Linked DNA regions of Homo sapiens: all the other regions are linked to region 2. Evidence: fine-mapped expression QTL. A gene starts in region 2. Each other region holds a variant in brackets. All regions are shown on one strand. Distances are from middle to middle.

Region 1 (10,317 bases), 60 kb after region 2:
CTGCAGTCCCAGCTACTTGGGAGGCTGAGCCAGGAGAATCACTTGAACCCGAGAGAGGTGGAGGCTGCAGTGAGCTGAGATCGCGCCATTGCACTCCAGCGTAGGTGACAAGAGTGAAACTCCATCTCAAAAAAAAAAAATTGCCTACCAATTAGAAGCTATTTATCTCTCATCAAAGATTTGGATCCTATTTCTACTTAGCTGTCTACTTACAACACCAAACATTCTTTTTTTCCCCCCTTCATTTAACTATTATACAGAAGTCCTCATACTTCCTGGTTATTTCCAATTGCCTTTTAACAAACATGTTTTGTTCTAAGGTGGAACAGTCAAAACCATATATTCCTACTAAATTTTACCTAACATAAAATGAAACTATCACAAGGCAAAAGATAATCCAATCTTAGTGAACAAGACAACTCAGAACTACCTACTGACAATAGGAATGAATAATTTTCTAGTGTGGTTACAGACAGAATAAAGCATTTCAATTCCCAACCAACTCTAACCCTTAAAATTTAACTCCATGCCAAAGGCCTCTAAATTTTTTCTATCACTAGTCACTGTGGTTTCCATGTATATAATCCCCAAACACGATTCCTACACCTTAGTTTCAGCCATATATCCTAGCAAACATTTTACCTGTGCTGATTCTGGCAGACAAAAATTTGACCATTTGAGTTTCATTTATCTCCTCCATTCATTTCCGTATGAATGAGCTTTGTTTTTGCCTTGTGACAGCTTTGCCAATCAACAGTGATAAACTTCCTTTTGTTAAACATAACACTGCTTAGAAGAACTTAAGAGAAAAAAAGCCAAGTATTTTGTTTTGTTGTTCCAACAATTTTAACATCCAGTCAACTCCACATACACTGTCTTCAAAACATCTGCATACCTGACACAATCTTGCAGCTCATGGTGATGGGCTGGAAGGATTTTCCAGGTGACTCAGGATTAGGAACCTGACTTTGTGGAACAATTTTGCAGCTTGATGCTATTGGCTGGAAAGCTGAATTGCCATGGGAACAAAAGGTAACTTTCTGGGATGTAGTCATTTTGGTGGGTGTTCTTTCCAATGAAGATGGCAAAGCATAAAACGGAGTGTGTCGTTCAGCTTCAGTGCTAGCTGGGAATCCTGCTTGAGATGAAAGAGGCAAACGGCAAGTCATCAATCGCTTTGAAATAAAACCTTACCGTTGTGGAAAAAGAATAAAAATGCATTATTTCAACACCATTTTAAACCATGTACTGGTAGCAAAATAAATACAATCAATCATCCCTTCATATTTTTGGTGAAAAATATATATGCTTAGAATAATGTTTAAAGTGCTTTTTTAAAAAAACTTGAAAACATTATTAACTATAAACCATGTATAACATAAAAAGAACAAAAGTTCTTATGTTCCTCCATTTTTTAATATATAAACTGAAAAACTGTTTAGAGAAGAAAAAATCTTAGAAAGCATTCACTAAATCTAATGATATCCTCCTATCTTATTTATTTACTTATTTTTGAGACATTATTTCACTTGTCACCCAGGCTAGAGTGCAGTGGTGTGATCTCAGCTCACTGCTACCTCCACCTCCCGGGTTCAAGCAATTCTTGTGCCTCAGCCTCCGGAATAGCTGGGATTACAGGTATGCACCACCATCCCTGGCTAATTTTTGTATTTTTAGTAGAGACGGGGTTTTGCCATGTTGGCCAGGCTGGTCTTGAACTCCTGACCTCAGGTGATCCGATGGTTTCAGCCTCCCAAAAGGCTGGGAATTACAGGCATGAGCCACCGTGCCCGGCCCCTCTTGTATCTTATTAAATGCCCATAAAAAAGATGCAATTGAAATCTAAAGAGGAATAAAGTTGAGATTTTATAAAAGAACTATAATACTAACCACATTAAAATATAGGCTTAGAAATAAAACATTTAAGATCAATTTTATATCTTTTATGCTTATATATGGGAACATTAAAATATGTATTTATACACATATATTTGTTAAATTTAAAAATGGCATGGTCAAAATACATTGTTGGTGATGAATCTTTTCTTAAGTAAAACCAGGTATTTAATATCCAAGTTTCTTGCTCGCACAATCAGAAGCTGAACCATAAAGTCTTCCTGTAATACATTATAAGGAATTATCAAGTGATAAAAATCTGTTTTAGGCCAGGCGTGGTGGGTCATGCCTGTAATCCCAGCACTTTGGGAGGCCAAGGTGGGTGGATCACCTGAGGTCATGAGTTCGAGACCAGCCTGGCCAACATGGTGAAAACCCATCTCTACTAAAAATACAAAAATTAGCCGAGAGCGGTGGTGGACGCCTGTAATCCTAGCTAACAGGGAGGCTGAGGCAGGAGAATTGCTTGAACCCAGGAGGTGGAGGTTGCAGTGAGGCGAGATCATGCCACTGCACTCCAGCCTGGGCAACAGAGCAAGACTCCATCTCAAAATAAAATAAAATAAAAATAAATTTAAAAATCTTATGTTTTTTAGCTATTTTTACATTTTATAATATGTCAGTAAAACTTCATGGAAATTTTTTTTTTTTTTTTTGAGATGGAGTCTCGCTCTGTTGTCCAGGCTGGAGTGCAGTGGTACCATCTCAGCTCACTGCAAGCTCCACCTCCCGGGTTCGAGCCATTCTCCTGCCTCAGCCTCCCGAGTAGCTGGGACTACAGGCACCCACCATCACACCCAGCTAAATTTTTGTATTTTTAGTAGAGACGGGGTTTCACCGTGTTAGTCAGGATGGTCTTAATCTCCTGACCTCATGATCCACCCGCCTTGGCCTCCCAAAGTGCTGGGATTACAGGTGTGAACCACAGCTCCCGGCCGGAAAAATATTTTTGACAAGAGTGGAAATTTGGCTTTCATAACAGAACTGTGTAGTAGAGGCAGCATGTCCACTTATAGCAAAGTTATTTTCCATATACTATAGGTCTCTGAAAGCAGCAAATGGGAAAGGAATGCCTCAGAACAACGCTATGCAAGGAAAACTGCTGTATTACCTTTCTCCACAGAGGTATCGGGTACTGGCTCATGTGACTGCTTTATTGGTGAAGAAGCTTTCACTGGGGCTGGAATGGTCAAAGGCAAAGATGGAGGGGCATCAGAGATGTCAGACTCCGAGGACTGAGGATAGATACAGTCTTCTCCGAGAGAATGGCGATGGAGTTCAACATCCACTACCTAGACAATTGGGCAACAATCAGGCTCATGAGTCCATCATCAATGTCACAGAAAGCTCAAGTCCCGTCCAAGAATGTAATCTCCGGGATGTGAGAGATAACTTCTAATCACACTTCAAAGGCAATTTCAATCTGAAGAACTAAAGGATTTATTCTAGAAGGTAATCTAATCTGGCTTAACAGACACATACCTCAGTGAAAATCTAATCTGGTTTAACATACAAATCTCAGTGAAATTATTCACAAAATTGGGACCTCTTGATTTTGCTGTTGCTACTCCTTACAACGCTATTCCTCCAAATCTTTGCATGGCTGCCTTTCTCACCAGCAGGTCTCAATGAAGTAGCACCTTCTCAGAGAGACCATGCCTAACCACCCAAGAATAAGCTACTTCCTTATCCCCCAGCTACTCTTATCTTCACAGCACTTATTTGTAACTGAAGTAATTTTATTTGCTTTTGTGTTTACTGTCTACCCTCCCCATTTTCAATGCCACTAAGAATTTGACTCTGAAGGAAGAAGCTACCGTGTTCATTTCTGTATTCCCAGCACCTGGACCAGCGCTCAATAAGTACCTTCTGATATAATACAGCAGATTTCTCTAGACAGAGTAAGATTTAATTAGTGAACTCTGATTAAATGGCTATTGCTGATTATTATATGATGAATACAAAAAAAGGGAGAGAAGGTGAAGAACAAAGTTGGAGGTCTCAGACTCCTGATTTCAAAATTTATTACAAAGCCATAGTAATCAACAGTATGCTGCTGGCATAAAGACAGACATACAGACCAATGGAACAGAATAAATCCTCACATATATGGTCAAATGATCTTTGACAAGGGTCCCAAGACCATTCAGTGGGGGAAAAGACAGTATTTTCAGCAAATGGTGCCAGGGAAACTGGATATCCATATGCCAAAGAATGCAATCGGACCCTTACCTTACACTATATACCAAAATTAACTCAGGATCAAAGAACGAAACATAAAAGCTAAAACAATAAAACTCCTAGAAGAAAATGTAAGGGAAAAGCTTCATGACACTGAATTTGGTAATGGTTTCTTGGACA[C/T]GACACCAAAAGCACAGGCAACAAAATAAAAAATAGACAAACGGGACATCAAACTTAAAAACTTCTGTGCATCAAAGGACACAATCAACAGAGTGAAAAGGCAAAAATATAACACGGAATGGAAGTAAATATTTGCAAATCATCTATCTGGTAAGGGGTTACTATCCAGAATATATGAATAACTCCTGTCACTTAGCAACAACAAAAACCAAACCACCTAATTTAAAAATGGGCAAAGACATTTTCTGAATGTCTCTGAATAGACATTTCTCCAAAGAAGATAAACACATGGTCACCAAACACATGAAGGGATCCTCAACATCACTAATGATTAGAGAAACACAGATCAAAACCACAAGATATCACATCACAAACAACAGAATAACTACTATAAATTAAAATACAAAAAAAATTAACAAATGCTGGTGAAGACGTGGAGAAACTGGAATACGTGTGCACTGTTGGTGGGAATGTAAAATGGTGCGGCTACCACGAAAAAATATAGCAGTGGTTCCTCTAAAAATAGAATTACCATAGGATCCAGCCAATTCCATTTCTGGGTATATACCCAAAAGAACTGAAAGCAAGGATTTGAATAGATACCTGTACACCTACGTTCATAGCAGCACTATTAACAACAGCCAAAAGCTGGAAGCAACGCAAGTGTCCATCAGCAGGTGAACGGATAAACAAAATGTGGTATATACATACAATGCAGTATTATTCAGCCTAAAACAGGAAGAGGGGCGGGGCACAATGGCTCATGCCTATAATCCCAACACTTTGGGGGGCCAAGGCAGGCGGACAGCTTGAGCCCAGGAGTTGAAGACAAGCCTGGACAACATAGTGAGACCCTGTCTCTACAAAAAATAAACAAGTAGGCCGGGCGCGGTGGCTCATGCCTATAATCCCAGCACTTTGGGAGGCCGAGGCAGGCAGATCATGAGGTCAGGAGATCAAGACCATCCTGGCTAACACAGTGAAACCCCGTCTCTACTAAAAATACAAAAAAAAAAAAATTAGCCGGGCGTGGTGGCAGGTGCCTGTAGTCCCAGCTACTCAGGAGGCTGAGGCAGGAGAATGGCGTGAACCCGGGAGGTGGAGCTTGCAGTGAGCCGAGATCGAGCCACTGCACTCCAACCTGGGCAACAGAGCGAGACTCCATCTCAAAAAATAAATAAATAAATAAACGAGTAAGTAAATAAATTAGCTGGTCATGGTGGCACACGCCCACAGTCCCAGCTACCTGACAGGCTAAGGACAGATTACTTGAGCCCAGGAGGTCAAAGCTGCAGTGAGCCGTGATTGCACTCCAGGCTGGGTGAGAGAGAGCAAGACTCTTTCTCAAAAATAAATAAATAAAAATAAATTTTTTTACAAAGGAAGGAAATTCTGACATACGCTACAACATGGATGAAATCTGAGGACATTATGCAAAGCGAAATAAGGCAATCCCAAAGAGACACATATGTTATGATTCCACTTATATGAGGTACCCTAGAGTAGTCAAATTCACACAGACAGAAAGTAGAGCAGCAGTTGCCAGTGCTGGGGGGGCGGGAGGAGTGGGTGGTCATTTTTTAATGGGTACAGAGTTTCAGCTCTGCAAGACGAAAACAGTTCTAAAGATGGACTAAGGTCATGGCTGCATAATAATGTGAATATACTTAATGCCACTAGACTGTACACTGAAAAATGGGTAAGACGGTAAATTTTGTGTTACGTGTTTTTTAAGCACAATTTTTAAAAAATATATGAACCGGCCGGGCGCCATGGCTCACGCCTGTAATCCCAGCACTTTGGGAGGCCGAGATGGGCGGATCACAAGGTCAGGATATCGAGACCATCCTGGTCTAACTCGGTGAAACCCCATCTCTACTAAAAATACAAAAAATTAGCCGGGCGTGGTGGCGGGTGCCTGTGGTCCCAGCTACTTGGGAGGCTGAAGCAGGAGAATGGCGTGAACCCGGGAGGCGGAGCTTGCAGTGAGTGGAGATCACGCCACCGCACTCCAGACTGGGCGACAGAGTGAGACTCTGTCTCAAGAAAATATATATACATTTTGAAAATATATATATATACACACACATATATATATGAACCAAGGCTGGGCGCAGTGACTCATGCCTGTAATCCCAGTGCTTTTGGATGCTGAGGTGGGAGGACTGCTTGAAGCCAAGAATTCGAGACCAGCCTGTGAACATAGTAAGACACTGTCTCTATAAAAAATGTAAAAATTAGCTGGGCTTGCTAGTGCAGGTGTACAGTCCTAGCTACTTGGGAGGCTGAGGTGGGAGAATGGCTGGAGTCTAGCAATTCAAGGTTGCAGTGAGCCATGATGTTACTGTACTCCAGCCTGGCTGACAGAGTAAGACCCTGTCTCAATTAAAAAAAGAGAAGAGAAAAAGAAGAAAAGAGAAGAGAAAAGGAGAAAGCCTGGTGTGGTGGCTCACGCCTGTAATCCCAGCACTTTGGGAGGCCAAAGCGGGTGGATCACCTGAGGTCAGGCAGTTCGAGAGCAGTCAGCAGTTCGAGAGCAGCCTGACCAACATAGTGAAACCCCGTCTCTACTATGAATACAAAAATTAGCTGGGTGTGGTGGCGCGTGCCTGTAGTCACAGCTACTTGGGAGGCTGAGGCAGGAGAATCGCTTGAACCCAGGAGGAGGTTGCAGTGAGCCAAGATTGCTCCACTGCACTCCAGCCTGGGCAACAGAGCGTCACTCCCTCTCAAAAAAAAAAAAAAAGGAGGGGAAGGGGAGGGGACAAGGGGAAGGGGAAAGGGAAGGGAGAAGGAAGGGAAGAGGAGGGAGGGGAGACAAGGGGAGAGGAGCCACAAGTTTCCTGGTAAGCCTGTGGAACTGTGAGTCTATTAAACCTCTTCATAGATTACCCAGTCTTCGGTAGTTATTTATAATAGTGTGAGAATGGACTAACACAGAAAGGCAAACTTTAAAAAAAAAAACTAACACTAATTTTTTCCCTAATTAAAAATGAAGATCGGCCAGGTGCAGTGGCGCACACCTGTGAAACCCTGTCTCTACTAAAAATATAAAAATTAGCCAGGCATGGTGGTGCGTTCCTGTAATCCCAGCTACTCGGGAGGCTGAGGTAGGAGAATCACTTGATCCTGGGAGGAAGAGGTTGCAGTGAGCCGAGATCATGCCACTGCACTCCAGCCTGGGTGACAGAGCGAAGACCCCGTCTCAAAACAAACAAACAAACAAAAAATGAAGATCAATTTTCATCCTACTCATTCCCAGATAATACTGTAGGAAAAAAACCTACCGTCTCTGCTCCAAGAGTCTGCAAGCCAGTATAAGTTCTATCCAGCTATGGAAAGACAAAAGGGAGAGTGTTAAATTTCACTGCACTTACTTACATATTATCATAGGATACAATCTTTATCTACAGCTCTTTTGCAAGTCTTCATACCATAGGATCTACTTTTTCATAATGTAAAATATAAATTCATCACTTCAATAAAAAATTGAGTAAAATCAATAAAAACCTCAGACATATAGTTACTATATTTTTAATATAAATTATAATTTTAAAAAACCTATTCTAAGGACAATGTAAAAATGGAGGAAGTTTTACACAAAAAGATGTTTACTGCAGCATTATCTATAACCAAACTAAAAACAACATAAAAATCCAGAATAAAGGAATGTGTAAGTAAACCATGGACCATCAATCTCTGAAATATCATGCAGCCACATAGATGAGGTTTGCAAAGACTGTGTACAGATATTTTAAATGACAGGCTATACATATTTTAAATGCATACATTCTTGGACACAATTATATACTCAGAGTATATTTACTAAGCACTTAAAAAAAAGAATGAAAACATAGGCAGTAGAGGCTATGCTAATGACTTCAAATATACTGGCATCATGATTTGTTTTTTGAGAGAGGAACACAAACTGAGGGTATGTTAATAATATAAACAAGAGTTTACAATTACACAGAAAAAGGTTAAGTTCTTATTTGTAAATTTATATTCCACCACTAAAAAAAGAACTTGTGATAACAATATAAACATGCAATAAGATTAACAGGGAAAAGTATTAAATTGGGTAGAAAAAAAAAAGAGAGGGAAAAAATGAAGCCAGGGTAGGTTAGTAAATACAAGGTTTTAAAGGCTTATGAGAGGTAGGTGTCACGTCTGGCTGAGTTTCTTAGCAGCCAACATAGAGAGGACAACTCAGTCAGTTATGAGAGTTAGTGTTCACAAGATAAAAAGCAATACAGGGTGGATTAATAGTGGTTCCATGGAAGAAATCTGGAGTTTTAATATTTAAACCTTAGCTAACAGTATGACTGCTAAAAAAAAAAAAAAAAGGTAATTTTAGGTTACATCCATTTTCACAGTCTCCAGAGCATAGAAATAATAGTCTCTCTGTAATCCGCACGGGTGTATCTTTCATTGTTGGGACCAAATTTCAAGAGGGACATTGGATAGGACAGAACTAGTATCAAAACAAGAAGAGGAACTGGAAAACAAAGCATACAAGAAATGTAACAGGAACAGGTTTTGCCTGGAGTAGAAATGATTTCAGGAGACATGAAGGCTATCATTAAACATTTTTAGCGTTCTTATAAAACAAAGCCTTATTCTGTATTATTTCAAAAATCAACAGCCTGAGGCCAGGCTTGGTGGCTCACTTCTGTAGTCCCAGAACTTTGGGAGACTAAGGCAGGCTGATTGCTTGAGTCCAGGAGTTTAATACCAGCCTGGACAACATGGCAAAAGCCTGTCTCTACAAAAATTAGCCAGGTGTGGTGGCATGTTCCCGTAGTCTCAGCTACTCAGGAGGCTGACGCAGGAGGATCTCTTGAGCCCAGGAGGTTGAGGTTGCAGTGAGCCATGATCGCCCCACTGCACACCAGCCTGGGTGAAAAAGGGAGATCCTATCTACAAAAAACAAACGAACGAACAAACAAAAAAACCAGCCTGGGCAACATGGCGAGACCTCAACTCTACAAAAATAATTAAACAATTAGCCAGGCATGGTGGCGCACGCCTGTGGTCCCAACTACTCAGGAGGATGATGCGGGAGGATTGCTTGAATCCAGGAAGTTGAGACTGCAGTGAACCGTGTTTGCATCACCGCACTTCAGCATGGGTGACAAAGCGAGATCCTGTCTCAAAACAAACAAACAAAACAGAAAAAAGAAACACTACGACAAAAGGACAAACGGGGTCAAGGTTTTACTAAATGGATCAATGTGTTGGCTTGGGAAGTGCTGTGCTCTAGGGTAATGGGTAAGGAGAGAGTAAATGACTACCTGTCAGAAATGCAGGATATAGTAATTTCACACATTCTAGGAACTTTAAATTTTATGTAACTCTAATATTTAGAGTATTTAATATTTAATGTATATTTACAGAATCAAATACACGTCATTATTTACTGTACAAAATACAAAGATCACTTCAGGCTTTAACAGCCAGGAAAAGCTACATAAGAACTTGAAGAATGCAAAGAATTCAGACAAGCATCTGAGGAGGGGAAGAGCATTAAAAAAGACCCAAGGAAAGACGGCCCAAGGCATCTCTATGACATGAATAGACTGCCATGGCTAGAGCAGAATGTTCATCAGGGGATTTGTGCGAGACAATCTAGGGGAAGTAAATCGAGTCAAAATGAGCCCTGAGAGCAGGTGGGGGCATTCGCACTTTAACAGGAATTCAACCAAGTTTTCTGAAAGGGATAGCAGAAAGGTTCTGCGGTTTTAAGCAGACTGATCAGATACTGTTGTGTAGGATGCCCTATGAAGAAAGGAGATGGATTTTTAAAAGCCTATCAGGAGACAGCAAAATAGCAGCCTAGGAATAGTGGGCAGGGGCCAGGGCGCGGTGGCTCACGCCTATAATCCCAGCACTTTGGGAGGCCAAGGCAGATGGATCACTGGAGGCCAAGAGTTTGAGACCAGCCTGACCAACATGGTGAAACCCTCTCTTACTAAGAACACAAAAATTAGCTGGGCATGGTGGCGTGCACCTGTAGTCCCAGCTATTTGGGAGGCTGAGGCAGGAGAATCGCTTAAGCCC
Region 2 (10,317 bases):
CTAATTTTTGTAGAGACGGGGCGTCATGTTGGCTGGGCTGGTCTCGAACTCCTGACCTCAGATGATCCTCCCATCTCAGCCTCCCAAAGTGCTGGGATTACAGGCGTTGAGCTATCACACCCGGCCATTTTTTATTTATTTTTGTACATTTTGTAGAAACAGGGTCTCCCTATGGTTGCCCAGGCTGGTCCTGAACTCCTGGGCTCAAGCAATCCTCCTGCCTCAGCCTCCACAAAGCACTGGGATTGCAGGTGTAAGCCACTGCACCCAGCCTGGCCTCTTTATGAGGAGATGTGGGTTATGCTGAAACTCCTTCCCACTCACTTAGGTCTAAATAATCAGGCCTAACATGTTCAGCAAGTGACCCAAGAAGCAACTGAGACAGACAAGTCTCAACCATGTGGTCCCAACTCATAGCTATCTATCAATCATCTCTCACACACATACATAATACGCATATAAGACTGAAAGAAAGGCACTGAGAGATGTTAGCAGTGATTATCTTTCAGAGGAGGAATTATGAGTAGTTTTTCAAACACATTTTTTATGCTTGCTAAAGTTTCTGTAAACATTTTTATAATAATTCTGTAAAGAAAAAGTTCTTAAAAATAAAAAGCAAGCCAGGCATGGTGGCTCATGTCTGTAATCCCAGCACTTTGGAAGGCCAAGGCAGGTGGATCACTTGAGGTCAGGAGTTTGAGACCAGCCTGGTCAACATGGTGAAACCCTATCTCTACTAAAAATACAAAAATTAGCCAGACGTGCTCACTTGAACCCAGGAGGCGGAGGTTGCAGTGAGCTGAGATCGTGCCACTGCACTCCAACCTGGGCGAGAGAGCAGACTCTTTTTTTTTTTTTTTTTTTTGAGACAATGGAGTCTTGTTCTTGTCACCCAGGCTGGATGGAGTGCAATGGCACGATCTCGGCTCACTGCAACCTCCGCCTCCCAGGTTCAAGCGATTCTCCTGCCTCAGCCTCCTGAGTAGCTAGGATTACAGGCACCTGCTACCACGCCTGGCTAATTTTTATATTTTTAGTATAGACGGGGTTTCACTATGTTGGCCACGATGGTCTCGATCTCCTGACTTTGTGATCTGCCTGCCTCGGCCTCCCAAAGTGCTGGGATTACAGGCATGAGCCACCGTGCCCGGCCCAGACTCTGTCTCTAAATAAATAAAAAGCAGTTCAACATGTTAGCAAATTCCAGACAAAAGAAAATGTTAACTTTTTAATTATTTCACAACCCAAGCTGCCACTGCGGGAGCTGCCTCAAGCAGCCACGGGCTGCACTATGACGCTCTGCAGGTGGAAAGTCCTAAAGATCCTTCCGCAAGTCGAGGGGGTTTGCAGGCATTTAGAACAAGGTCTCGCCTCTCTGTGCTCCATGGTACAGAACTCCAGGACTCAGGCCACGTTCCCAAAAGCAGCTTTTGAAAAAAGCTAGGCCCTGCAGCCCACCCCAGACAAATGGAAGAACCTCCCCTTTGAACAGGGTCAAGATGATGATGAAGCCCCAAAGCCAGTTCTGTTGGCCCCGTTCACACAGGACTCCTTCCATCAATAACTTGGAGTCCAAGTCACGTAAGGTACTGCCTGTGACACTGATCTGAGCCTGCTCTCGCTCCTGCCAAAACCTTGGCTGAGACAATGAACATTTATGAAGGCAAGCCTAGGCACACCCCTCTCAGCCATCAGACTCTTTGACTCTCCATTATGACTCTCAGCAAAGTCTGGTCCCCAGAAAGTTACATACTTGGACTGTATCATAATGCCTTTGAAGAACCAAAGCTTTCAAAATCTTTCAGCTCTTACGTTTCTGGATTTTTCACTATTTCTGAGCCATATGCTAGCAGATGGTCACAGCATAAGGACCGTGTCACAGGAGTGACTTGTTTCAGTCCTCAACACAGTCCAATTTTACCCTGCCAGATAACCCGGTATGTTTCTTTGTTAGACACGAGGAGCTGATTCTCTCTCTGCCTTGGCTTTAAGGAAGCTCTGAGCTCATTTATGCAGTTTTCTTTTGCCCCAAGCTGTCAGGAATAATTATGTCCATTTCCAAATTTTTTTTAGACTTTTATGTAACTGTAATCCTTTATCTTATACGGTTGCAACATTTTTTTTTTTTTGGCAAGAAGTAGAGGAATTAATTTAAACATATCAATAAGACTCTACACCATCACCTCATCCCAGTGCAGGGAGAACCCTGCCTGAGTACCATGCTTCAAACTCAGAAACACCCACCACAAATACCAAAAGATTTATTGTAGACAATTTTGTTACACAATTATACACATTATGATACACGTTTGAAACATTAACACACGTGGAGACTGCTAAATCATTTAATATTTCTTTTGCAAAAAGATAATTTCTTTAGGCTGTGATACCTGCAATAACCAATCTGTTCTCATTTGGATCAGATCTTTCTCCCTCTGTCCTGGAGATCTCACAGTTCACTTTGCTGAAGCAATCTATCCACTTCCCTATCGACCTTGCTTATAGCAGTTCAGGTATAGACTATTTGAGCCTTATATACTAAACTGTTAAGCCAGTGCGTGCCCTATGCCCTGCTGAGAATAGATTCCTTCTGTACTTGCAGCCCTCAGATGCTGAATTGATCAATCAATTTTTGAGACGGGGTCTCCTCTGTCACCAGGGCTGGAGTGCAGTGGTATGATCTTGGCACACTGCAACCTCCGCCTCCTGGGTTCAAGTGATTCTTCCTGCCTCAGCCTCCCGAGTAGCTGGAATTACAGGCACACACCACCATGCCCAGCTAATTTTCTGTATTTTTAGTAGAGACGGGGTTTCACCATGTTGGTCGGGCTGGTCTCGAACTCCCAACCTCAGGTGACCCACCCACCTCGACCTCCCAGAGTGCTGGGATTACAGGCGTGAGCCACCATGCCCGGCCCAGATGCTCAATTTAAAAGGCAGAGTTTATTCAGTCACTCCCCGCCTTACCTTCCTGACTCAAACATCTACAGGACCCATGAAAACAGGAATTACGTTGCTTGGGTAAGTTTCTCTGACTCTGACTCACAGGTTTCCGATTTTCCTGGAGCAGAATAGAACAGATTTCTGACTGGGCATGCATTCTTTGTTCTGCCTTCCACACAGGCTGTGTTAGGAAGTCTGAGATGGGGCGCCTCCAATAGACCCGGGCACCTGGCAGCGCCACCTTCTCCTGCCTGCCACTCCCTCCCATCGAGGGGGCCTCTGCTTGTGGACACAGACTAATCTCACTGCTTCTGGGCACTGGCATCCTTATTTCTGGGCATGGGCAGTTACTTCTCCAACTTTAAGGCACTCACTGGTATTTCTTTTAAATACTTTTCTTCTTGGGAAAAACTCCTTAACAGAGAAGAGTATATACAATCCACGGATAGGACAGACGACCCCAGAAGAGCCTGCCGGGCGCCGCTCCCCACTGGCCACTCAGCATGGGGTCAGCAGCAGAAGCTCCTGCAGGCCATGCAGATGGCGTGGAACCTGCGATCTGCTTCGCACACATGTGTAACGCTGCTACACTTCTGCCAAGTGTCTGGGACTGGTGCACACAGTCTATTCCTAGCATAGTGAGTTTTCTTGGTTATAATCAAACCTCTTCCTGACTCCTGTTGGGACCTCTCCGTCCCTTGCCACTGCTTTGACAATGGTTCTAGTAATGCTCTCGTGCTCAAAAAAGGAATTCTGCTCAGTCTGCCGTCTCTCAGGCCTTCATGGTTCTTGGCTCTAGGTATGGCCTCTTCCTATAGCTGACTCACTTGGGCTCAGAGTACAGCCCCTCCACACCAAGGCCAGGCATGGGAGAGAACCACCTGCTGAAGGCTGAAGCCCAATCTCTCTTCAGGGTAACTGCTGGAGCTACTGGTAACTCCAGCCCACAAAATGGGTGAAATCTCTAGCCTGCCACTCATTTTCTACCTCCTGGGGAGGCGGGCCCAAGGAGCCCCCTTAAGCACACCCAGGGAGAAGGGCCTGAGGCACACGGCCTGGCCCGCTCTCGTGGGGCCTTTACAAAGACTGCAGAAACGCTGGCCGACAAAGCACGGATCCACTGACAGCCTCACTCCACACTCAGGAAACAAACTCCTGTCCTAGGAGGATTTCATCTGGAGTGCAGCGTGCTGGTGACACGTGGGAACAGGCAGCGGCAAAGGTTGGGTAGCCATGACATGCCGAGTCACACTGGAAACCACCTCCTTCCCGAGCAGCAGGGTCCTCAGTTACAGCTTCGCTGTGCCTTCAAAGCCTGCTTCTCCAGGGCACCTCACTCCGCTCACTGGTCCTCATTCAATATTCCCATGTGTTTGTTTGTGAGGAAGTCCAGAAAAGGAATGTTGCAAATGGCCTGGTGAATATTACTCACTGTAATTTCTTTGGGAATCCTGGTCCAAAAAACAAAGGGTGTTACCAGGTGAAATTCTCTCACGTATATCTCATCATTTATTCACTTAACTCATCACAGGGACCATCCCAGGCAGAGGCCCCGTGGAGAGGGCTCCTGAGCCACAGACATAGCTTAGGGCCACTCTGGGGTGAGGACTGCCTTCCTGTCATAGGCATGAGAAGGATGTCAACAAGTTGGTTGAATAATTAGGAAAAAAGATTCTGAGAACTGAGAAAAGAGAAAGAAAACAAAGCGGATGGCAGAACGGAATGACACATTTGTGAGTGAGTCTCAGCAGACCGAAAGCTGAGTCAAAGCACCACAAAACTCTGGGACCTTATTTCCCATCTCCTAGAAAGACGGGAGACGGAGCCACGCCAGGCCAGGCGTGATGTTAATCGTTCCATCAAAAGCACCTAAGTCACTCTACCCCTCCAGGACAGGGAGCACAGAGGTAAGCAGGGGCCACAGGAGGCCCTGGCTCACTTGTGGGTCCAAGCAGGACAGTGGGCAGCAGGACCGGAACTCTTGGTTCCCCTTCCTTTTCTCTAAAGACGCCTATGTTGTCTGATATATTCCTGTGAAGTTTCATCTACTATTCCTCTGATTTAGGCCCTTCATGTCCTCAGGCACTTTGCTACAATTTTATAAATCTGTGACAGCCTTTAGCATAATGCAATAAAATAATATTTGTTTCCTCCGAAAGAAAAGCAGATGTGGCCTATCTACCATCCTTTCAGGGCCTAGGAACAGACTGAAACTCAGTGTCTTAATCAAAGACAACGAGTCAGCAAAGAGCAGTGGCGAGCCCAGGGGCCTCAGAGCCAATGAGACCTGAGTCGGAAGTCCAGGTCTACACTGTATTTGCTGGGTAAGCTGGGTAAAATTACCTTTCAAAGCCCGGTTTCCTGATTTTTAAAAAGAGAATAATAGTTCTGCAATGAAAAACAAATTAGGTAATATATGCAACGCTTGGCCCTCGTGTCTGACATGTAATGGACACTGTTATCTTTAATTGCAAAGCTAATATTTATTCAACCCTGTAATAAAACAGAGTCCTAGGTGTCTGTGAAGTAATGAGGAGGATATAAACCTCTGAGCAAAGCTGAGTGAGCTTTCACAACCATGAGGTTCTCTAAAAATGACAAAGCAGACCCTTGAGCTCATCTGGCTCTAAGAGTGTCCTAAGCACTCACTCCATCTCCTACTGGATTGATGTAAGTATAAAACACCTTCATGGGCAATTCAACTGTTAGGAAAGAGGTGTAAGCCTCACACCACAGACTGCAGAGATAGTAATACCTGTTGTGAGAAGCTGTCTGGTATCCAACTGCCAAAGCCTGTCTCAGGATATCATTCACCAGCTGTTCTGTAGCCTACAATGGAAGATGCTGTTATTCTTCAAATGGCCATCTGCTTGCTGGCAAGAAGGGACACATTTAACCCCATCCCTTACCCCAAATGTTTGAAACCACTGCAACTAGGGATTAAAAAGTCCTTAAGAAAAAATTAAAGGCCTCAATAATAGACCATAATGATAAAGGCCATGATTCTGAGAAATTATGAATTGGAGTGATTTTCATTAATCAGACATTATTCTATTTATTTATTTATTTTGAGATGGAGTCTCACTCTCGCGCCCAGGCTGGAGCGCAGTGGCGCGATCTTGGCTCAGTGCAACCTCCGCCTCCCGGGTTCAAGCGATTCTCCTGCCTCAGCCTCCCAAGTAGCTGGGATTACCAGGTGAGCGCCACCAAGCCCAGCTAATTTTTTATTTTTAGTAGAGATGGGGTTTCACCATGTTGGCCAGGCTGGTCTCCAACTCCTGATTGCAAATGATCCACCCGCCTCGGCCTCCCAAAGTGCTGAGATTACAGGCATGAGCCACCGCGCCCAGCCCTAGACATTGTATTTAAGGAAAGCAGTTGTTACGGAGGTATCCCTATTCTTGGAGAGGATCCACGAGGAAAGGAACTGCTGAGCTAGGATCAGGCTGGGGAAGGAGGCTGCGGCATTTTCGTCCCCTTGCCAGGGTCAGGACAGTTGGGGCTGTTTGCTGTTGTGACGTGTACAGAAAACCATAGGCTTTGTCTCTGCCACCTCCTAAAGCAACGAGCACACTGACCACCACCCCCAGAATACGTCTTAGGAGGCACCTGAAACCACATGACTCAGAGGAAACATAACTTAGTCCATTTAAAAATCAGAAGGAAAAAAAACAAAAAAACAAAAAGAGAGAACTTAAGCCCAAATAAGACGAGACATTTTAAAGCCTGTTATCTTTGTTCCTTTTCTGTCCTTGCCCCTTACTCCAAACCGCCTGGGATGCAACCATCCTTCCTGGCTGGCGGCCCCTGCAGGCACCCACCTTCAGGATCATGTCCTCCACCACGGACGCATACACGTTCCTGTGGAGTGCCACGGGCTGCAGGGTGATCCCAATCTGGAAAAGCAGAAGAAAGCCGTTTGTTCGTATCGCTGCTTTAGAAACAGCCTCTCTCCAAACAAGCATACCTCCCTGACATGCAAAGCGATGCCTGGTTGGAAGGAGGACTCTGCAAACATATTGGGCAAAATTCACGGGAAAGGAACACGGAATATAACATCTAGAAGAATGTTATCTTGTTTTTCCACATTTCTGGCTGATATTTAAAATATGACTATAATCCTATTAAAATCTCTCAAATCTCCTTCGTGGGAGAACATGGTTGGGATCTGCCTGGGTTCTGATACGCAATCAACACTTTGAAAGGTCTGGAATCAGACTCCAACGTCCTGTTTGCACTTGGAAACTGCATCTTGCCCATTCTTCATGGCATCCAATGAAAGCACACTGTCTTTCACCTTGGGCCCTGAGCAACTGGCAGATGCTGAAGAGCTGTTAGGCTCCAGCAGGGTGGATAAATACCTCTCTCCTGTATAGTAAGGCAGGTGCACGCCATCTGCACCACAGGCGGGGCACTCAGGAGCTATCAACACATCAGGGGAGGATTACGCGCTGACGTGCAACTCAGAAAGAGTACGACGTGCCTCATGAGGGAAAGGTGCTTCTACTGAGGCAGATGAGAAAAACAAGATGAAGAGTAATCAACCATTTCTATCTAGCCAGCTTTGCTTCACGTCTGCGTTCAACAAGCAATGTTTTCACATGTAATTAGCATTTCTGCCCAAGGGCTCTGATGTGGGACGGTGGGAGCCCTGAGAGCACACCTGGGTCAACCAGGCAGAAGGAAGTCAAGCATCTACGGCACCAGAAGAGTCTGGGTCTGAGTCTGTGTCTGTGAGGCTGAACACCTGGGTCTGGGTCTGTGAAGCTGAACGTCTGAACATCTAGCTCTGAGCTGGTCTGCTGCATGAACTATTAACACCACAACCCCTACCTTCTGTGTGACATCCCCAATAAATTCAGACCCTGGGGTTGGTGGCAGGTAGAACTTGACTTCCTCTTGTTTCTCTTCCTGCTCCTTCTTGATGTTTATCTTCACTGGCTCGGAGAGGCTGAGGATGTCCACCTCCTCCTCATTCTCGGGTTCCCTTTTCTGGAACTGTTGCAGGTCCTCCAGTTTGCGGCAGAGGTTGTCAGCAGAGGAGAATGATGATGGGCACTCTAAATGACAGGCAAGCAGTGTTACAACAGCTGTGGGGCCAACGGAAGAGGACTTTCCGTCTCCAAGAGACCCATGGTCTGAGGAAGGGGGATAAGCATCAGGGGAGCTGACCTTCTTTCCAGTTCTAACATTCTATGGATCTATAATGATGAGAACTAGTAATTCACGAGGGAGAAAGGCATAAACACAGGCATCTTGTGTGTGATCTATGTAAGGTAACTGCCATCTAAGATGAAAGAGTAGGAATTCTCACTTCTGCCACCAAAAACCAGGTCATCCCCCTCCCTCTGAGTATTAAGGACTGACCTGATTTTTCCTCATCTCAAATCTGGAAAATTTAGAAATGCAGAGTGAAGAAAATAAAAAGAATCACCCCTATTCTCACTGCTCAGAGAGCAGGACTGTTAACATTTCAATGTATATTATGGGTCCAGTCTCTAATAAGGTGATTTATACAAAACCTAATCAGGAGTGTGAGGACCTCAAGGCCAGATCTAGGGCACTAGTGCCCTTCCACTTTCTGGATGAGTGTGTGAGGTCCACACCAGGTACAAGATTTAAGGGCACCCAGCTCCTGGCCTTTTGTTTTACTGACTGGGCTCTAACAAGCTCCAGCTGCTCCTCAAGTTATGATGGCTGGGGCTATATCCTGAAAAACCCATCGTAAGTTGAAAATATCATTTTTGACTTAGGATATTTTCAACTTACGATGGCCTTATCTGGACAAGGCCATCGTAAGTCAAGGTATGTGCTGATGCCTACAGCTTTCAGACCATTGTAAAGTCACAACATCAAATCACAGGTCAAACCATTGTAGGTTAGGGGCCGTTTGGAATCAGTCAGATTAAAAGGAAGCCTAGTATGTGCAAGTACTGTGCTTTCCACACAATGTCAGTGAAGCCCGGGGATCATTAACACGGTCTCTGCTCTCCGAGTAGCTTACACAGCGAAGTCAGACAAGCCCTCATGCTGTTGATATTAAGCGCTGCAGGAGATGAGAGAAAGGAGAGGCCATCCTGCATTAGGCTCTCAAGAAGCTTAATGGCAAAACTGGGACTTGCCCCCCCTTTTTTTTTTGGACAGGGTTTTGCGCTGTCACCCAAGCTGGAGAGGAGTGGCATGATTACAGCTCGCTGCAGCCTCAACTTCTTGGGCTCAAGCAATCCTCCCTCCTCAGCTTCCCGAATAGGTGGGACTACAGGCATGCACCACCATGCCCGGCTAATTTTTGCATTTTTTGTAGAGGCAAGGTTTCACCGTGTTGTCCAGGCTGGTCTTGAACTCTTGGGCTCAAACAATCCTCCTGCCTCAGCCTCCCAAAGTGGGAGGCCACTGAGCCCGGCCCTAAGTCTTAAAGTAACCCCACCTCTGTGCTCCAGGTTTCCTTGGACAGGAGGGGTGGAGCTTCTGTTTTTCTATATAAATGGGGCTGGGGGCAGAGAACAACTTTTCTTTTTATTTTATTGAGACAGGGCCTGGCTCTGTTGCCCAGGCTGGAGTGCAGTGGTGTGCTCATGGCTTACTGCAGCCTCAACCTCCCGGGCTCAAGTGATCCCTCTCACCTTAGTCACCCAAGTAGCTGGGACTACAGGCGAGCTACCACACCCGGGTAATTTTTGTAATTTTTGTAGCGACAAGGTCCTGCTATGTTGCCCTGGCTGGTCTCAAACTCCTAGGGGCTCAAGTGATCCTCCTGCCTTGACTCCCAAAGTGCTGGGATTACGGGCATGAGCCACTACGCCCGGCCCAACCCTTCTTATTCTTTGAGGTGAAACTCAAAATGCTTCTTCTGCCTATATACCTTTAATCCCTTGCTCCTACACCCCATGGCCCTGCAGCAGTGGTCTGTTTTTTTTGTGTGTGTGGTTTTTTTTTTGAGACGGAGTCTTGCTCTGTTGCCCAGGCTGGAGTGCACTGGTGCAATCTCGGCTCACTGCAAGCTCCGCCTCCCTGGTTCAAGCAGTTCTCCTGCCTCAGCCTCCCAAGTAGCTGGGACCACAGGCGTGCGGCCACCACGCCCAGCTAATTTTTTTGTTTTTTTAGTAGAGATGGGGTTTCAGTGTGTTAGCCAAGATGGTCTTGAACTCCTGACCTCATGATCCACCCGCCTCGGCCTCCCAAAGTGCTGGGATTACAGGCGTGAGCCACGGCGCCCGGCCCAGTGGTCTGTTTTTTTATCGTGAAACAATTCATTTCACCTGCAACATTACTAGTTTTCACAAGTGCCTCCCGCACTGGGTGGCGTCCTCCGAGCTGGGTTTGGAGATAAAGTAACAGATGAGACACAGGCCTCATCTTCACAGAAGTAGCACA
Region 3 (10,317 bases), 270 kb after region 2:
AGGTTAGCATTCTTTTACTGTATTTAACTTCTATGGAAAACGTTAAGGCCACCATAATTACAAGAGTGCTGATACTGCTATGGCTTTTTTTTTTTTTTTTTTTTTTTTGAGACTGAGTTTCGCTCTTGTCGCCCAGGCTGGAGTGCGATGGCCTGATCTCAGCTCACGGCAAACTCTACCTCCCAGGTTCAAGCGATTCTTCTGCCTCAGCCGCCCGAGTAGCTGGGACTACAGGCGTGTGCCACTATGCCCGGCTAATTTTGTATTTTTAGTAGAGATGGGGTTTCACCATGTTGGCCAGGCTGGTCTTGAACTCCTGATCTCAGGTGATCCGCCTGCCTCGGCCTCCCAAAGTGCTGGGATTACAGGCGTGAGCCACCACACCCGGCCTGGTGCTACGGCTTTAAAACACAATCAAACCAAAACTAACAGGTTGCATCATAGCCCTTTCTGAAGAGATGCTCTGGGATCTACAATAAATAATAGACACTCAGCAGGTTTGCATATAATGATTCAGGTCCAGGGTCCAGTAAGACCTTATTGGATTGAAAAGATCATGTGTCTTGTAGAGTAAGCTCAGGTTTATGGAGGGCTGAGTATCAAGGGCCTTTTGGTGTTGGGGGAATTTTGGGAGAGGTGGAGGCCCAGTGGATAACTCCTGGAAGGTGGAATTTTATTGTATTATTGTGTATAGCGAACGCAACACAAAAAAATAGGACAGAAGAGAACAGAGATTAGGGAAAGTTAGGAAAGTGTCAGGTGACTAGCAGTGTCTTTAAAACTCAGGATAGCAGGCTGGGTTGGCAGACGATGTCTGTCTCATTAGCAGGTGGGCCTGGAAATGGAGGGGGAGAGAATTCTTAGTAACTGCTATGAAAATCCTCACTCCTCCCATGCTCCTCCAGTGTACCACCGATGATTAGCAGGCCTTCAGTTAAGGAGCACTGCATAGTATTATCTCTCTCTCTCTCTTTTTTTTTTTTTTGAAATGGAGTTTCGCTCTGTCGCCCAGGCTGGAGTGCAGTGGTGCGATCTCAGCTCACTGCAACCTCCATCTTCTAGGTTCAAGCTATTCTCCTGCCTCAGCCTCCAGAGTAGCTGGGATTACAGGTCAACACAACAAGATAGTTTTTGTATTATTAGTAGAGATGGGGTTTCGCCATGTTGGCCAGGCTGGTCTTGAACTCCTGACCTCAGGTGATCTGCCCGCCTCAGCCTCCCAAAGTGCTGGGATTACAGGCTTGAGCCACCTCACCCAGCCAGTATTATCTCTCTTAATGTGCAAATACCTGGAGGGGAAGGAATGCAAAATGTTAAACTTTCAGAACTACAGTGCTGAGTGGACTTAGTGAATTTCCATCCATCTGTCCATCCATCCATCCATCCATCCATCCATCCATCCATCCATCCATCCATGTATCCATCCATTTGACACAAATTTATTAAGTGCCTACTCTGTGGCAGGCACAGAGTTTACAAAGATGAATAAATTATGGTTCCTGCTTGACCTGGAAATCATCATCTAGTTAGGACAGAGAGATAAGTAAATTGATGTTTACTGTACAGGGTGATAAGTGCTATGATGCAGCTCTGCACAGGGGTTATGGTGGAGCTGGGGACAGGGGCTGTGAGAGGTTTGCTACATGGGAGCTATAGGAGCTTACAGAAGGGCATTAAATCAGACGGAAGAAAGAGCAGTCTGAGAAGGCTTCCTGGCAGAGGTGATATCTGAACGGAGTTTTGAAGGATGAGTAGGCATTGGCCAGAAGGGGCCAGAGGGGAGAAAGGAGAAGAGAGGAGCATTCCAGGCAAAGAGAAGCACATCCGGGAAGGTGCCACGCAGTGTAACCACAGGTAGAAGAGTAGGTTGAAATAAAGGACATGCACAGGCCAATAAGGCTGAGAGACAGGCATGGTCAGACCGGGAAAGGTTTTGTTGGGTGAAGCTGTGGAGTTTGAAACATGACTTACAGATAGTGGGAAGCCGTGGAAGAGTCTTTAAGTAGGAAAGAGATGTGATCCAAGATCTCCCTTAAAATAATCCTTTGCACTGTGGGTATGGAGGGTCCCATCAATCTAGGCAGACCCTTAGGTAAGTTGCAAGAAATTTCAGTGAGAGGAGATGAGGGTTGGAATTAAGGTATAGGCAGTGTGGTTGGGGAGAAGGCCTCCAGCAACATTCACATCCTCTCTGAGGGCCTGCAGGGCAGCCGGACCACAGAGAGCATGAGGGAGAGGCAGCGCTGCCCAGCAGGGAAGGGTAGGGGGAAGTGAGGTTAGGAGGGCTGGAACACAAAGCAAACTGACTCCACTCTTTGCTGAGGACCAGCTCTGAGCCTCAAGATTGGAAAGAGAAAGAGAAAGTGGTCTGACCTTATCAACCCTTCTCCTGCCCAGGCTATCCCGTTTTAGAGCAAAGCTCATAAACAAAACATCTCAAGTTCTGGACTTGCAATTCTTGAACACCTTGGAGATAGAGCCACAGCTATTATTAAAATATGTTCCCCTCTCTTATCCACATCTCTGATAGAGACCACTGCTGGCTTTTAGGGTGCCTTCCTTTGGTTTTTTTGTTTGTTTGTTTTTGTTGTTTTGTGTTTTTTAGAGGCTTGCTATGTTGCCCAGGCTGGACTTGAACTCGTGGCCCCAAGTGAGCCTCCTGCCTTGGCCTCCCAAGTAGCTGGGACTACAAGCATGTGCCACCACACTCAGCCCCTTCCTCTGAATGTAAATAAGTTACCTGGGAGGACCAGTTAGAAATGGGGGCCCCTTTCTGGGGGTTGCAATCCACGTTAGTGCACAAGGCTTGGCAGGTGTAGGGGGCGCTGGATTTTAGCTCAAGTCAAGCCTGGCCTGTGCACTCCTGCGTGTAGCCCAACTGTGGCAGCTCCTCCTTCACGTCTAGATTCATAACTGCTCCCCATCCCCAGCTGGAGGAGCTCCTGTCTTCTGTCCCTTTCCCTCTGGATTCTGTATCATGAAAGCCCAAGGGACAGGCCTGGCAGTCCAGATTCCTCTGTGGCAGCTGGCGGAGGGAGCAGCCTAGAACGCACATAGGATCATCTTTGCCTGTCACAAGGGATACCTTTTATGACTGGAGGAGCCTTAGCATTTGAATACCTTGGGGTAAAGACTGGGGCCAGTGCCAGCTTGCAAGTTTCTAAGTGGTTAGAACCAGGGAAGGCTCAGAAAAAATCTTTAAGCAGAGGCTGATCCCTAACTTCTGGACAATGACATGGTCACAGGGAAGCCACAGAGTCCTGGAGGTGGGAGTGGAAAGTGGAAAAAGAGGGTCATGTGGAGCCTCCGGGCAATAGCCTGGTCGGGATGTGGTGGTGGACGGCGAGCGCAAATGCGGACCCTGCTCCAGGCCCAGAGGGGAAGTGAGAATCTGAGCCGACCTCGTTGGTTTGTGAGGGAAGTGGGGTTTTGTTAGGGGAAGCCAGGTTTCATCTTCAGGAAGGAGGTGGAAGATGTGTAAAAACAAAAGCAGACAAAGGTAAAGAATAATCACCATGTTTTGTAAGTTAAACTCTCAGGTAGGAGAGCTTAGGGTAATCATCAATGGGGCCGGGTGTGGTGGCGTGTGCCTGCAGTCTCAGCTACTTCGGAGGCTGAGGTGGGAGGATTGCTTGAGGCCAGGAGATTGAGGCCAGCCTGGGCAACAGAGAGATCTTGTCTCAAAACAAACCAACAAGCAAACAAACAAACAAAAACGGGCCTGGAGTTCCAATTCAGAGAATCGCTGGGATTTCTTTTGTCCAATTGTATCACTCCGCCCTGCGAGTGACAGACATTCAGCTCAAACTGGTCCAAGCATAAAGGGGAAAAAATAATTTATTTGCTCATGGAATTAAAAAAAGTCTGGGGTAATGGTTTCAGGTATAGTTGGGTCCTTGTGCCCAAAGTA[A/G]TGTTACCATGACTCAGTTTCTCTCTCCTTCTTAGTCCCGCTTTCCTCTGTGTGGGTTTCTCTCTCAGGGAATGTATTCACACATGAGGACAAGCAGGTAGCCAGCATCTCCAAACTTTCATGTCCACCAGCTCAGCAATTCTAGTGGGAAGAGACAGCTTCTCTTTCTCAGTAATTCCAAAGAAAGTTCTGGAATTGGCTCCAATTGAATTGGCTTCTTCCTATTCCCATCCCTGAACCAATCATTGTGGCTTGGGCTTGGACGGTGGGGTGTTTCCCAACGGAAGATCTGAGTACTCCTGCTAAAAGAGACAGGAGTAAGTTGGGCAGACAAAACAAAAACTGTCCATTGTATCTTTGTGACTGTATCGTCACTAAAGCCTGACCACAAGTATATGTTGTAATTGATGTTCTTTCTTGTCTGATCTTGCAGACAGAACAAGTCCTTCTTTCTGTCATAAACTTGGATGGCAGAATTTCATGGCAAGCTGAGGCATCAGCAATGGTCTGGTGGGACTTGGAGGGATTCTGCTTCCCTAGGAACATGGCCAGAGTTTTCTTCTCCACAGGGGCCGTGGGCAGTGTCCTTGAGGAGTGGTGAACTAGGGCAAGAAGCTTGGCAGAAGGGAGTTGTTTTTTTGTTTTTTTTTTTTGAGATGGAGTCTCACACTGTCACCCAGGCTGGAGTGCAGTAGTGCGACCTTGTCTCACTGCAACCTCTGCCTCCCGGGTTCAAGCAATTCTCCTGCCTCAGCCTCCCGAGAAGCTGAGATTACAGGCACCCGCCACCACACCGAGCTAATTTTTTGTATTTTTAGTAGAAATGGGGTTTCACTGTGTTGGCCAGGCTGGTCTTGAACTCCTGACCTCGAGATCTGCCAGCCTCGGCATCCCAAAGTGCTGGGATTATAGGCATGGGCCACCGTGCCTGGCCCACAGAAGGGAGTTATTCTGAGGCCTGCTGATGCTTAGAGTCAGATCGGGGCAGCTGTAGGCTTCCAGCTCCTCTGTCAGTTTGGAGCAAAGCTGGCAAACGGAATGGGATTGCCACCTGATTCGGGAGGCAGCCATAGGCCTCATGGAATTCTAGGAAGGCTGTGTCTTAGAAGATGAAAGGAAGGATCCATAGTGAGGGAGGACTTTCCGAAACATATCTTCCCTAGCACTATGGCCAATTGTTTCCATGACCTTGATCTTCATTCAGTCTCCTTCTCAGGAGGAAGTAGGGGTGACCTCTTTCTAGGGCAGAGGTTCTCAAAGTTTGCTTTGCAAAGGAATTATGAGTCGGAGCCAGGGACACCTAATTAAATACATACCTCCAGCCCTACTGCTAGAGATTTGGCTTTAGTAAGTCTAAGGTAGGTGGGGTACAGGATTCTGTATTCTGAATAAGCAACCCAAGGTTCTGATGCAGCTGGTTCAGGGAACACATTTTGAGATCCACCTCTTGAGGCTGGAGTATCTGAGGCCAAGGATGTAAGCAGGACTCCAGTATTGAGACAGGATCCATATGATAAAACTTAGGGGACAGCTTGAGCTCAGAAACAGGGCAGAGCTGAATGTTTAAGTGCTTCCCTTGGTTAGTATTGGCTCAGGTTTTGGTGCCTTGAACTAAGAAGTGCTGGGGACCATAGAGAGAGATGCCATGTCATGCTAGGTCACACTTGCATCTGCTGACTCCCTGCTTTCTTTGCAATGGAACCCCCTTTGATTGACTTCATTGTGTTTATATCCAATAATCCTTTCTTAACAATAGTGTTCATTGTGTAGTACATGCTGACTAGTTTAAAAAACTTTTAAACTGATTGTATACATATGGACATTGTATTCTTAAGTAGAATTTAACTCATTTTGCAACTGATGTTAAAGCCACCGCCACACAGAATATCTCAGTGAAACAGGGGAGTTCGTTCCTGGTATAAACGGGGAATGGTGAAGAAATAAGAGGAAGGACAGAACAGGGGGCAGACAGGTGGAGCCGGTGTAGGAGTGAGATAGTGGGAGTGATAGGTGTGGGTATTTGTTTATAGGGTTAGAATTAGGGTTACAGGAGGCAGGGAGTTCAGAGGTGTGGAGTTCTAGGGAAGGGGTCAGCTATAATGGAGTCGGGCTGGGTGAAATATTCTGAGTTGGTGAAGTTTAGGAACTACAGGAGCTTGTAGAGCTCATTGAAGTAGTGCAGGTACGTTGAATGTTCGAGTGTCCTCTTCAAGCTCTAGGCCCTGGACTCGGGAGTGTGATAGGAGTTCCCTAGTGGCGGTGGAGGGCCTCATCCTCCAGATATATTTGATAATTCTTGGAGGTACAGATTCCTGTCAAAAGCAAGTGCAAAGGGACTAGGAAGGACAAGTTGGTTGATTCATTCATTCACTCACTTTCCCTAGGGACCGTCCCTACTTGGTGGTGGCACTGCTCTGGCCCCTAGATACAGTGCTGAGCATGGCACACCCTCACTCAGCTGGCATTCTAGTGGGGTGACAATAATTAACAAATAGATAGGTAATCTAATTTCAGGATGTGCAGAGCTATGAAGAAAAATAAAGGAAGCGAAGAGGTGAGGGAGTGGCGATTTTAGATTAGGGGGAGTGTCGGGGAGAGCCTCTCTGAGAAGGCGATGTTTGGCAGAGACCTGAGGTGAGGAAGCCTGGTGGAGAATGGAGAGGCGTGTGGCCAGGCAGTGTTTGTGGCATGGCCTGACTTCATGCTGGGAGATTCTTGGGCCTGTGGATATTTTCATGACTGTTGTGGGAGACAAGCTTGCTGGGTCAGGCTCTATTTTGGGGTGGGCACTGACTCACCGCCCAAGTGTTGGGCAACTGGTATGCTGCTGTGAGATTGTTTCTGCTGTAAAATGAGGATCTTCCTAGCTACCTCTGTTTTACAACAATCTCATGAGAATTGGTCAGTGTCTTTCTAGAAAGTGTTTTTATTACACAATATCTTGCATGTATGCCACAGGATAAGTTGTCAGCAACCAACTCAGCTGTGTTCTCAGAGAGCAAAGTTTGGGCTGGTCCATTGAGCGCTGACACTGAGTTGATCCCCCGCAAAAGGCCTTGAACTCCTGCTGATTTTCTTGGTTTTCGTGCACTGCTGAGCTCCTGATTCAGAGCCTGAAGCCCTAGGTTCTGATTCCTACTCTATTGCTGACAACCCATGGGGACCAAGCTTTGTCTGAGTGTGTCCATGGATCTCCCAGAGGAGCAGCAGGAGGCCTGGGAGTATAGTCTATGAGGAATATGCAGATTTCCCCTTAGTTTCATCTTACCCATGTTCAGCATGGTGGCCATGGCCAGGGTAGTGTATTTAAGTGGCAGAAAATTCATGAAAATATTTCAAAGGGAGCAGAGAAATGCTGGGCCTTGGGGAGTCAAAGCTGGTTAAAAAGACCCCTGGAGAGAAGGACACTGTCTTGAGGGCACTTTCTTTCTCTCCCACGAACTGAGCTGAGATGTTTAGGCCGATTCGTGCACAGCGCTGGCCCTATGCTTGCTCTGGATGCATGGTCGACAGCAATGCAGCAAGTCAGACACGCAGTTACCTGATACGCACCCGGCCAAATGCTGAAGAGATAAGGGTTGTGAGTCAGTGTGGTGCTTGGTCCACTTACCCCTAAGTGTCTCCTACCAACCTTCCAAGATTCCTCTGATTTGGTCCAAAATACTTTCCCTGATTGAGTGCTGACGAGGTGCCAGGTATCGTGCTAACGCCTTGGTGTACTTCATCTTGCTTATTCTTCTGTGCAGCTCACTGAGGTGGGGACTATTATACCATTTTACAGATGAGGAAGCTGAGGTTCACTCACTTGCACTAAGTCACACAATGAGTGAGCATCAGAGGTCAGACTAGACACCAGTCCCTCCTCTGCCTGCCAACAGCCAGGTGGCTGCTCTTTTTCCCCTGCCCTCCCCAGGCTCCCGGAAGTCCCTTGGCTTGTGCACATGCAAACTCACACATACACAAAGCCAGATGTGCTGGAGAATTTACCTACTCCTGGATGGCCTGTAACCAAAGACAGTCAGTGTGGTCAGAGAGTATCACGGCCCTTGCCTCCTGGTGGGACAATTCAGAAGTGTCTTTTCCAGAGGTCCCTGCAGGATCAGGCTGAAGCCACTTTTTGCATGACTTTTGTCTTGCTGGGCTTCCTCCCCCCCTTGTCTTGCCCCCCTGTTCCCTTACGTCACTAGCAGAGGGGGTCTGCTTGCAGGGAATCCAGATGCCCGGTCAGACATGGGCTGAGCTGGGGCAGCATGTTATTAAGTGACTGTGATTCCAAACAAGAATTTGGGGCCAGGCACAGTGGCTGACACCTGTAATCCCAGCACTTTGGGAGCCCGAGGGGGGCAGATCATGAGGTCAGGAGATCGAGACCATCCTGGCTAACGTGGTGAAACCCCATCTCTACTAAAAATACAAAAATTAGCCATGCGTGGTGGCGGGCGCCTGTAGCCCTAGCTACTCAGGAGGCTGAGGCAGGAGAATGGCATGAACCCGGGAGGCAGAGCTTGCAGTGAGCAGAGATTGTGCCACTGCACTCCAGCCTGGGCGACAGAGCGAGACTCGTCTCAAAAAGAATTCGGAAGCCGTGGCTAGCAGTGACAGCCCAATTAAGAGTCCAGATGACCCTAGAGAGCCCAATAATATGTCACATGGGAAACACATTGACTTCATTTAGGAGCTCCTTGGAGTGCAAAGCATTAACTTAAACCATTGGAACATCCCTCCTTTAGACTTGATTATACAGATTCAACCAAATTAACCTCTCACTAATCTTCAAGTCACAGTCCGGGTGAAATAACATTTCTAAATGTCATGTTGGTGGGTCTCTAGAGATGTGTTGCCTCAGTTATATGAAGCTTATTTGACCCCATAATTAGTGCCCACCCTGTCCTGCTGAACTTCCTGTTTCCCATATATTTATTTATATGACATTCACGAGGGTGAAATTTGCTTTGCCTCCTGAGATGACTGTAGGTCTGGGTGACCCCAACACCTGAGTTCAGGACTGATGGCAAGAGCTGCACTGTCTAATATGGTAGCTACTAGCCACATGTGGCTGTTGGGCATTTGAATTGTGCCTACTCTGCACTGAGATGCTTTAAGTATAAAATACGCATAAGGCTGGGCACGTTGGCTCACGCCTGTAATCCCAGCACTTTGGGAGGCTGAGGCGGGCAGATCACAAGGTCAGGAGTTTGAGACCAGCCTGACCAACATAGTAAAACCCCGTCTCTACTAAAAATACAAAAATTAGCCAGGCGTGGTGGCATGAGCCTGTAGTCCCAGCTACTCAAGAGGCTGAGGCAGGAGAATCGCTTGAATCCGGGAGGCTGAGGCTGCAGTGAGCCGATATTGTGCCACTGCACTCCAGCCTGGGCAACAGAGAGAGACTCTGTCTCAAAAAAAAAAAATATATATATATATATATGTATATATATGCATACATATATACATACATACATACATATATACATATATACATACATATATATGATGGTCTTTGAAGACACAGTATGAGAAAAAGAATGTAAGTTATCGCATTAGTCATTTTAAAATATTTCTTACGTGTTGAAATGATATTTCAGGTATATTTTGGGTTAAATAAGATATGTTATTAAAGTTGACTTTTATTTTTTTCTTTTTACTTTTTAAAAATGGGGCCGGGCATGGTGGGGCTCATGCCTGTAATCCCTCACTTTGGGAGACCGAGGTGGGTGGATCGCCTGAGCCCAGGAGTTTGAGACCAGCCTGGGCAACATGGTGAAACCCCATTTCTACAAACATTGCAAAATTAGCCAGACATGGTGGTTCATGCCTCTAGTCCGAGCCACTTGGGAGGCTGAGACAGGAGGATCACTTGAGCCCTGGAGATGGAGACTGAAATGAGCTGTGGTCGTGCCGCTGCACTCCAGCCTGGGCAACAGAGTGAGACTCTGTCTCAAAAAACAAACAAACAAACAAAAAATGTGGTGACTAGAAACTGTAAAATGCTATAGATGACTCACATTACATTTCTATTGGGCAGCCTTGCTCTGGACACTCCAACAAAGGGAGGCTTAGAGAGTGATCTTCCAACTCCTCCAGGGAAGATATGCTGAGCTGAGAAGAAATCATAGGCTGTCTCTGAGAGCAGATTCTTTATAAAATCAGGAGGCAGCGAGGCAAGCCCTATATGACATTACTTTTAAAGTAATGTCTTTTAAAGTACTTTTAAAGTACTTTAAAAGTACAAAGTACTTTAAAAGTAAAGTACTTTTAAAGTACTTTAAAAGTAAAGTACTTTTAAAGGCTGGTGATTACGGTTCTGCAGACAGCTCTGTGCTGCTGGTCAAGAGGGTTTGTGGCTGAGGAAACTGGTCTGTAAATTGGTCACCTGCTCTGATATCATCACGGCTCCCCCAGCTCTG

What was found. PIP is the estimated chance that this variant, and not a neighbour inherited with it, causes the effect.
Region 1: its variant is the best candidate, but not a certain one, in a credible set for the expression of YEATS2-AS1 in pituitary (GTEx, PIP 0.75).
Region 3: its variant is the best candidate, but not a certain one, in a credible set for the expression of YEATS2-AS1 in thyroid (GTEx, PIP 0.88).

What each region holds. Positions count from the first base shown.
Region 1 is chr3:183,744,944-183,755,260 of GRCh38, reverse strand. It overlaps YEATS2 (YEATS domain containing 2), which reads right to left. Exons shown (of 31, transcript NM_018023.5): 9 at 7,545-7,589; 10 at 3,008-3,188; 11 at 896-1,135. Among named protein-coding and RNA genes, the nearest start is that of YEATS2, 52 kb to the right of the region's middle. The variant C/T (reference allele first, on the strand shown) is at 4,258.
Region 2 is chr3:183,804,552-183,814,868 of GRCh38, reverse strand. YEATS2-AS1 (YEATS2 antisense RNA 1) reads left to right here and starts at 4,418. Exons shown (of 3, transcript NR_046727.1): 1 at 4,418-4,850; 2 at 6,017-6,139; 3 at 6,757-7,805. YEATS2 (YEATS domain containing 2) reads right to left here. Exons shown (of 31, transcript NM_018023.5): 28 at 7,777-8,003; 29 at 6,765-6,839; 30 at 5,699-5,772; 31 at 2,245-4,394. The coding sequence ends at 4,286. RefSeq lists an enhancer at 4,036-5,235.
Region 3 is chr3:183,533,955-183,544,271 of GRCh38, reverse strand. The region is part of intron 1 of KLHL6 (kelch like family member 6); the gene reads left to right. Among named protein-coding and RNA genes, the nearest start is that of KLHL6-AS1, 9.6 kb to the left of the region's middle. RefSeq lists an enhancer at 3,184-3,293. The variant A/G (reference allele first, on the strand shown) is at 3,911.